Homo sapiens: one gene and its partner. The protein of the gene in region 2 interacts with the protein of the main gene of each other region in a biochemical or structural test. Each region holds a gene or a part of one and is shown on either strand. Other genes may lie near its edges.

Region 1 (3,745 bases), on a different chromosome or scaffold from region 2:
CCTCCTCTCCTAGTCTCCAGACCCCAGCCTGTTCATTCCTGAGCTTCCTCTGGCACCCCTTCCTTGGGGCCAAGCCAAGTAAGAAATCAGCAGGCCCAAGGTGGTGCTTGGGAGGCCGGGGCAGTGCCAGGGGCAGTCCTCATACCATCCTCCCACTGGCTTCCCTCCTGCCTGCTCTTAGCCGCCACACATATCTCAGCTGTCGAATCCGATTAGGGCTCCTGCCCAGTGAGCCAGACAAGGAGGCCACTGGGCAGGGGAGAGAGAGACAAGGACGCCAAGCAGGGATGGCAGAAGGAAGGTGGAGACATGGCTCAGGGGAGCAAGTATGGGGCCCCAGAGGAAGAAATGCCTGGTGGAGAGATCTGTACTCTGTGACCACAGGTGCTCTGGTAACAGCTACAACCTGCATTAGGGGAATTCTGCAGTAACCGGGGCAATAGCCCTGCCTAGTTCCTCCATCCCCCAGATGGGCAAAGGATGGGGGAAGAAAACTAAAGGCGGAGAGATTGACCTAGATTTAGGAAGAGGATTCCATCCTAGATTCCCCCAGCCATTACTACCGTTTGCAGTGAGCTTTACGATACATTGTCTCTGTGGTTTTAGTGGCAATGTCCCTGCTTGCTACTGATAGCCATTTTTACAAATGGAGAAACTAAGGCTTAGCAAAGGGGAAGACCTATATAAACACATATAGTTAAGTAACCAGTCTAAGTCTCCAGTTCAGGCCTCTGATTCCTAGTTCACTGCTCACAGTCAGAATCTCTACTTTCCTTGTTGGATCAAGACCAGAACGAAGTCTGAAGCCAATTCATTATCCACCCTGTCCTCTAAAACCAACCTTTAGGGGACCCGGGGAGCCATGGAAGAATGCAGAGCACACCCCACACCTAGACAGAGCTACCAGATGGGGACATGCCACCCATTCCTATCATACATTGATTGCTAGAGGAGTTCCCTCAGTGTGACCAGTCTCTTCTATCACCCCCCTCCCCAGTCTACTACCCCCAGAAGCAAGACACACACTCACACATGGTAAGTCAGACAAGGTGTACACCCTTCCTGTAAACCCACCAAACCAGAATGACACGCCCTAGATCTTCAGAGAGCAGGGCCTGTCTGCCCACCACAGGAGAGAAAAATAAGCCACTGTAAACAGTAGGTGCCATCTAGCCCTCTCCCAGAGAGCCTGTAGCGGGGCAGAAGCTTGGGGACCTTGTAGCTCTAGAGAAACACCAGGAGCCTGAGATTCTGAAAGCCAAGAAGCTCAGGGAGCTGGCAAGGCTGGGTGACCTCCTCAATCTGGTCCACACCCCCTTCCCTAGCCATCTGGACTGAGCCTGTTCTGGCCTGGGCCACACTCTGGTATCCCTCCCCTTCAATGCATGCAGCCACCTCTATCCAAAGCTTCTAGATCTTACAACCACATTGTCCCTACACACACACACACACAGGTGGGGTCGGGGGGCTTCTGCAGCAGGTGTTGAAATGTTGACATGGATGGGGGCTCTAAGCTGAAAGAACTTTCCTAGAGGAAAAGCTCACCAAAATGCTCACAACCTCCACTACCCTCTAGCAAAGCCTTTAGCCACCCAAGTGTGAGATGAACCTGGAAGGGGACATTAGTTCCCCTACAAGGTGTGTAGGGAGTAGGGGCAAAGTCCTGAGCTCTTTGGGTGAGGAAGCAAGAAAGAAATCCCTTGGGAAAGCTCAGGTCCCTCTCTGGCTCTCTCCTCTCTCTGTTACCTCAGCACTTGCCAATTCTCCAGTCTAGGTGAGGTGGGGGAAGGGGTATTAGGCAATACCGCAAAGGAGGGTGCAAGGGCGTGGGGCCTGGGCAGACCTTCCCCCTACTCCCCACTCTTATCTAGAGAACGGGAACTGCCTCAGGAGAAATGCAGGAAGGGTGCTGGAGGGTGCAGAGGGCTCTGAGCTTTCAGACACCCCACTGTTCCCAGGCTCCCACCTCCCAGGACTACAGTGAGCGACGGGAGAGGAGGGATGGGGAAAGCCAGAACTGGCGAGAAGGAAATGGCTAGATCAGAAGCAGAGGCCGGGGTCAAAGGCGGCCAAAGAATTGGGAAGGGGTGTGCATGGTCCTACCTGCTCAGGTGTGTGCTGGCAGGGGGCCGATGGGGTTCCCAGGAGAACCGGGGAAGCCCTCTCAGCTCGATTCAGGATTCCCCCCTGCTTCTGGGTTAGGCTGCTGCAAGAGGCACGGGTTCCCGTTGGGTCCTAAAGCCCACTCGCCAACTAGAAGGCTCTCCCCGCCCTCTTCCACCAGCCAGCCCCGACTGGGTCAGCGGGCGCAGAGCGAAGGACTGATGGGGGAGAAGTAACCCACTGGAAGAAAGATGGGCGTCTGGTCATCGGCTGGGGACAGGAACAGTTCCCTGTCTCAAATACACAGCATATGGATAACTCGAGGATAGGATGACCTGAAACAGGAGAAAATAGACATTTCTTCCTGCCTGCCCTGAGCAGATGGATTTAGGTTTTGGTGCTGGAGGTGGGGTTAAGATCTCTTTCCCTGCCACTCCTGCTAAGGCATTCAGCTAGAGATTTTGGAAAGGGAGCATTCATTTTGGTTGGGCGCTCACTTCTGTCCTCTTCCTCATGGACTGCAGGAGTCCCTTCATCCCTCCCAATTATTCCCAAGGACCTAGGAGGCCATAGAGGGTGAAAAAAGATTTTCAGCATGTAAAAAGTGCAGGCTCACTTAGATGGCAGCTGGAAACAGGGGAAACATGTAGGACCAATGTATGTGTATCTGGGAATGTGTGGGGTCTGCAAATACACATATATAGGCAAGAGTATAAACAGGTGGGGTTAGGGAAGGAGAAAAAAACAAAAAAGAACTTTGGGTTACACCTATTACTGGAAATGGTAATTGTCAGTGGAAGAACAGGACGTAGAACCTAGAGGTCAACTAGTGCCCCTACCCAGCCCTCAGTAATGTCCCGAATCTTTATGACCAGAATAAACAAGTTAAAGAGAGAATATTTTCCTAGATACCATTTAGGATAAATATAGGGGCAGAGGGACCTCAATACAACAGATCAACTTCAAGGTCACTGATTCAGTTTAGTATAGCCAGTCTTCTCAGTAGCTCAAAAGGGAGAATTCAGGTTTGGTGGGCTAGATGGGCAAGAGAAAGCTGGATAAGAATTCTGAAGTTGTGGATTGAGAACATTTTGCAAGGAGAGTTGCACATATCTCTAGCAGCAGAGCAGGGAAAACGTCATGAGGGGAAGGGCCAGAGGAAGTCAGCGACAGACTTGAGGGGAGAGGGCATGGCCTCTCCCTAGAAGGGGAGAAGACACCAGCAATGCCTCCACCTCTGTCTTGCAGGAAGAACTGAGTAAAGGAGCTGGACTAAGGATGGAAGGCCCCAGGGTGGAGTCCATGGGGTGAGTTTAGGTCAAACCTTTCACCCTAATGTGCCTCAGTTCTCTCCCAGCTGTTAAACAGGGCTCTTCGTTCTTCCCAGGCAGTTAATGAGTGTTTACAAAAGGGTTTGGAGATCCTCAGATCTCAGCTGGGCCACCACTACAGTTATAAAGTTCAATAAGAGCTGAGTGTTATTTGGGGAGGAGAGGAGTAGGGGAAGGAAACAGATACTCTCTTATAAACTAAGGATAAAACTAAGCTCAGAGAGAAGCACAAGCCTAGCTGCCACAGGATATCCTTGTGCCCATGGATGGAGGTCACCCCACCCCCCCATCAACCACCACCAAAGGCTGGC
Region 2 (3,745 bases):
TAGCTGGGATTACAGGCGCCTGCCACCATGCCCAGCTAAGTTTTTGTATTTTCAGTAGAGACAGGGTTTCGCTATGTTGGCCAGGCTAGTCTCAAATGCCTGACCTCGTGATCCACCCGCCTCAGCCTCCCAAAGTGCTGGGATTACATGCATGAGCCACTGCGCCCAGCCGAACTAGGCCCTATTTCTATAGGTGCTAAAACTAGGCTCTGCCAGCACCTTGTGCAGCAGTTGCTGCCCACCTTACCTTTGCAGGACCCTCTCTCATCTTCTTGATCTGATCCTTATACTTCACTAGCTCAGCATCCAATCGAGAAATCTTCTTGTCAATGGATTCTGCTCTACTGTCCACCTTAGGGGAAAATATCAAATGCACTGGTAGTTACTGCAATACACTTATTCCAGAAGGGGCAGGTAGAGAGGAAGGAATACAGAGGAAGAAAAGAGGAGCTTAAGGGGAAGGGTGAAAAACAGTGGTTCACAAAGAAGGGTATTCCCAACCAGAAACCCTGGGCTTTATAAATTATTCTCTTACCCCCCGCCACACTGCCCCGATTCTGATATACCAGGTAGCCTTCAAGTGGGTTGGGGCAGAAAATAATTTGAGAATCACTGAGTTGAGTTGGAATTTCCCTAGAATCAGAGACTAGCCAGGCTGAGAGTTCCTCCAAGAGGCACATGAAATGGGCCAGTGCCAAGTGAAACCAGCTGATTGTAGATCTAATGCCATTCCCTAAATCGGGGATGGTGGCTTAATCTGAGGGGCTAGGGTTCTGAGTTTTGTGTTACTGAGATCCAGGACGAAGGCACAGATATGTTGACCTAGGATATCAAGCTGAGTCCTGATGTGGACTGGGGATGACAGATGGAAGAAGGGTAAGGGATCAGGCAGGATGAGGTGGGAAGGGTGTATGGGCCTAGGGCTGGGTGAGGTGAGAGGATCAAGGCGAGAGCGAGTGGACGGGCAATGGGCATCAAAACGGGTTGGGTGCTGGCAGGGCAAGGCAGTGATGGGGTTAGGGGTTCCCTGGTTTGTGGCGTTAGGAATGACTTGGGTAACAGGGATGAAGGGGAGAAGGTGAGATAGAGAGGGACGACGTGTAAGGGGCCCAGGACCCGAAATGAAGTGGAAGAATATGGGCCCGGGGCTGGGGGTGGGCGGGGTCGGGTGTGTCAGAGGTCCTGAGCCTACTTATGCATGATCAAATGCCCACCGTGCCAATGCAGTCAGTCAGGCTGGGCGGCGGAGCCTTGGGTTTCGCTTTCCCGAAGAGTCGGTTCATCTTGAGCAGCCGCGAAGAAACCCAAACACTAGAGCAAAACCAGAAACGGAAGCAGAGTCACTCCCGCCTCGACTTCCGGCCCCTCCGTGCGCAAGCGCAATATGCCTCCTGGCGTTTCCCGATTCTTTTTCCGGATTTTCAGCCGGGTCTTCCGGGGATGGAGAGCAAAAGGACTTGGTGCTCTCGGAGAGAGCCTGCAGGGGGCGGGGTGTTGGTAGAAGGAGTGGGAGGGGTTTTACTGTAGCAAGGCGGGGCCTCAGTTGAGTGGGTGGGGCCTGGAGGCAACTAACGCGGCATAGGGCGAGGGCGGGGCCGGCAGGCCGGGGCGGGGCTGGGAAGTAGTCGGGCGGGGTTGTGAGACGCCGCGCTCAGCTTCCATCGCTGGGCGGTCAACAAGTGCGGGCCTGGCTCAGCGCGGGGGGGCGCGGAGACCGCGAGGCGACCGGGAGCGGCTGGGTTCCCGGCTGCGCGCCCTTCGGCCAGGCCGGGAGCCGCGCCAGTCGGAGCCCCCGGCCCAGCGTGGTCCGCCTCCCTCTGGGCGTCCACCTGCCCGGAGTACTGCCAGCGGGCATGACCGACCCACCAGGGGCGCCGCCGCCGGCGCTCGCAGGCCGCGGATGAAGAAGAAAACCCGGCGCCGCTCGACCCGGAGCGAGGAGTTGACCCGGAGCGAGGAGTTGACCCTGAGTGAGGAAGCGACCTGGAGTGAAGAGGCGACCCAGAGTGAGGAGGCGACCCAGGGCGAAGAGATGAATCGGAGCCAGGAGGTGACCCGGGACGAGGAGTCGACCCGGAGCGAGGAGGTGACCAGGGAGGAAATGGCGGCAGCTGGGCTCACCGTGACTGTCACCCACAGTGAGTGTCGGGCGCCAGGTGGGCTCCATGCAGGTCCCGAAAGCCCGGCGGGGTCTGTGGGTTTAGTCACGTGTCCTCCAGAAGCGTGTGACCTTGCGCTTGTCCTGGCGTCCGGAAGCGTGGGTTATTGGTTGTGTCCGTGGAACTGTCTTTTGTCCCGGGCTTGTGTCTGTACACTTTTCCATGTGGCCGGTGTATTTTGTCTCTGGTCATTTGTGCGATCCTGGGTGTTTGAGCTTCTCCGTGCTTTACGTCGTGGGCCTGGTTGTGTTTGTGTGCCCGCGCAGTTATTGTGCCCTTTGTGTCAGGCATATATTGGGCCATGTGGTCTACGACTGCTCCGTGTGTGATAAGTCAGAACTTCGTGCATGCCGGGGTGCTCCTCGTGTGCTGAGTGCCTTCTCCGTGTGCGCCGCTTGAGTTGGCCGTGGGTCCAAGCGTTGTACTCTGGGCACCCTTTGGGTCTGCCTACTGTTGGAGTTGACACACCACCAAATGAAGTCAGTACACCGGAGAGCTGAGTCCATGAGGTTTCTCTAGAACCAGCTAGGGGAGGCCCAAGGGTCTGGGAATCTGGAGACCTGGATTCTAGATCCTGCGGTTTTGAGTGACCTTGGGATGGACGGCTTCTTCTAAGAATCCGGTTTCTCCTCTGTGAAGTAGATTTGGTAACCCTGGCTCCTGCTGACCTCACGGAGCTGTTGGGGGAACCAAACCTTGGTGTAATGTACTGTACACAGGCTCCCTCCTTGCTGTCCGCATCCCTGGAAAAGAATTGGCGTCTCTTCTTCAGAAAGAAAGGCTCTGCTGTTCGTATGCATTTGTCTGTTTACTTAGCACAAATCATGGATGCACTCAAGTGTGTTCAGTGGGAGAGACTTGGAGGAAAACAGTCACTTGCCCATTACAGCAAGCGAGACGAGACCAATACAATACAGGGTACAGGGCAGTCAAGCCACAGGAAGCAGATGGCTTGTGATGAAAAAGGTGGGCTTGGGAATCAGCTAGATCTGATATCAACTTCTGATTCCAACAGTTGAGTCTCCATAGGCAGTCCTTAACTTGCCTGAAGTCACAGTTTGCTCATCTGTGAAATAAGAAGTAATAGGTAGATCTACTTCGTGGGGTTTATCTGAGGATTAAATTAGATTATGCATGAAATGCTTAAAATGTTAGCAGATATCATTCATATTGTTAGTTATTATAATAGAGGAAACAGAGATACTTGAGGAGGTCACCAGAGGAAAGCTGGGTGGCATGGGGGCAGGCTCTGTGGAGTAGGTGGCATATGAGCTGGGCCTTGAAGGCTGGGTAAATAAATGTGATAAAGTGTCATCCTATATTGGTGTATGTGAAAGAATCATATTCGTCAAATGCTTTTCTTTCTCCCCAGGCAATGAGAAGCACGACCTTCATGTTACCTCCCAGCAGGGCAGCAGTGAACCAGTTGTCCAAGACCTGGCCCAGGTTGTTGAAGAGGTCATAGGGGTTCCACAGTCTTTTCAGAAACTCATATTTAAGGGTAAGCATTTCTTTTTCTTTCTTTCTTTTTCTTTTTTTTTTTTTGAGACGAAGTTTCACTCTTGTCGCCCAGGCTGGAGTGCAAT

The links. The genes of interacting proteins can lie anywhere in the genome.
Region 1: the proteins of BAG1 (region 2) and RARA form a complex in vitro, tested with the Homo sapiens proteins (one study listed by BioGRID).

Annotation. Positions count from the first base shown.
Region 1 is NC_000017.11:40,307,645-40,311,389, reverse strand, and holds the start of RARA (retinoic acid receptor alpha), read right to left. Parts: upstream 2,211-3,745; 5' UTR 2,104-2,210; intron 1-2,103. UniProt on the Homo sapiens protein: Receptor for retinoic acid. Retinoic acid receptors bind as heterodimers to their target response elements in response to their ligands, all-trans or 9-cis retinoic acid, and regulate gene expression in various biological processes.
Region 2 is NC_000009.12:33,262,617-33,266,361, reverse strand, and holds the start of BAG1 (BAG family molecular chaperone regulator 1), read left to right. Parts: upstream 1-1,653; 5' UTR 1,654-1,687; coding exon 1,688-2,138; intron 2,139-3,531; coding exon 3,532-3,660; intron 3,661-3,745. Other genes in the region: CHMP5 (charged multivesicular body protein 5), read right to left, coding at 248-352, 1,215-1,283. UniProt on the Homo sapiens protein: Co-chaperone for HSP70 and HSC70 chaperone proteins. Acts as a nucleotide-exchange factor (NEF) promoting the release of ADP from the HSP70 and HSC70 proteins thereby triggering client/substrate protein release.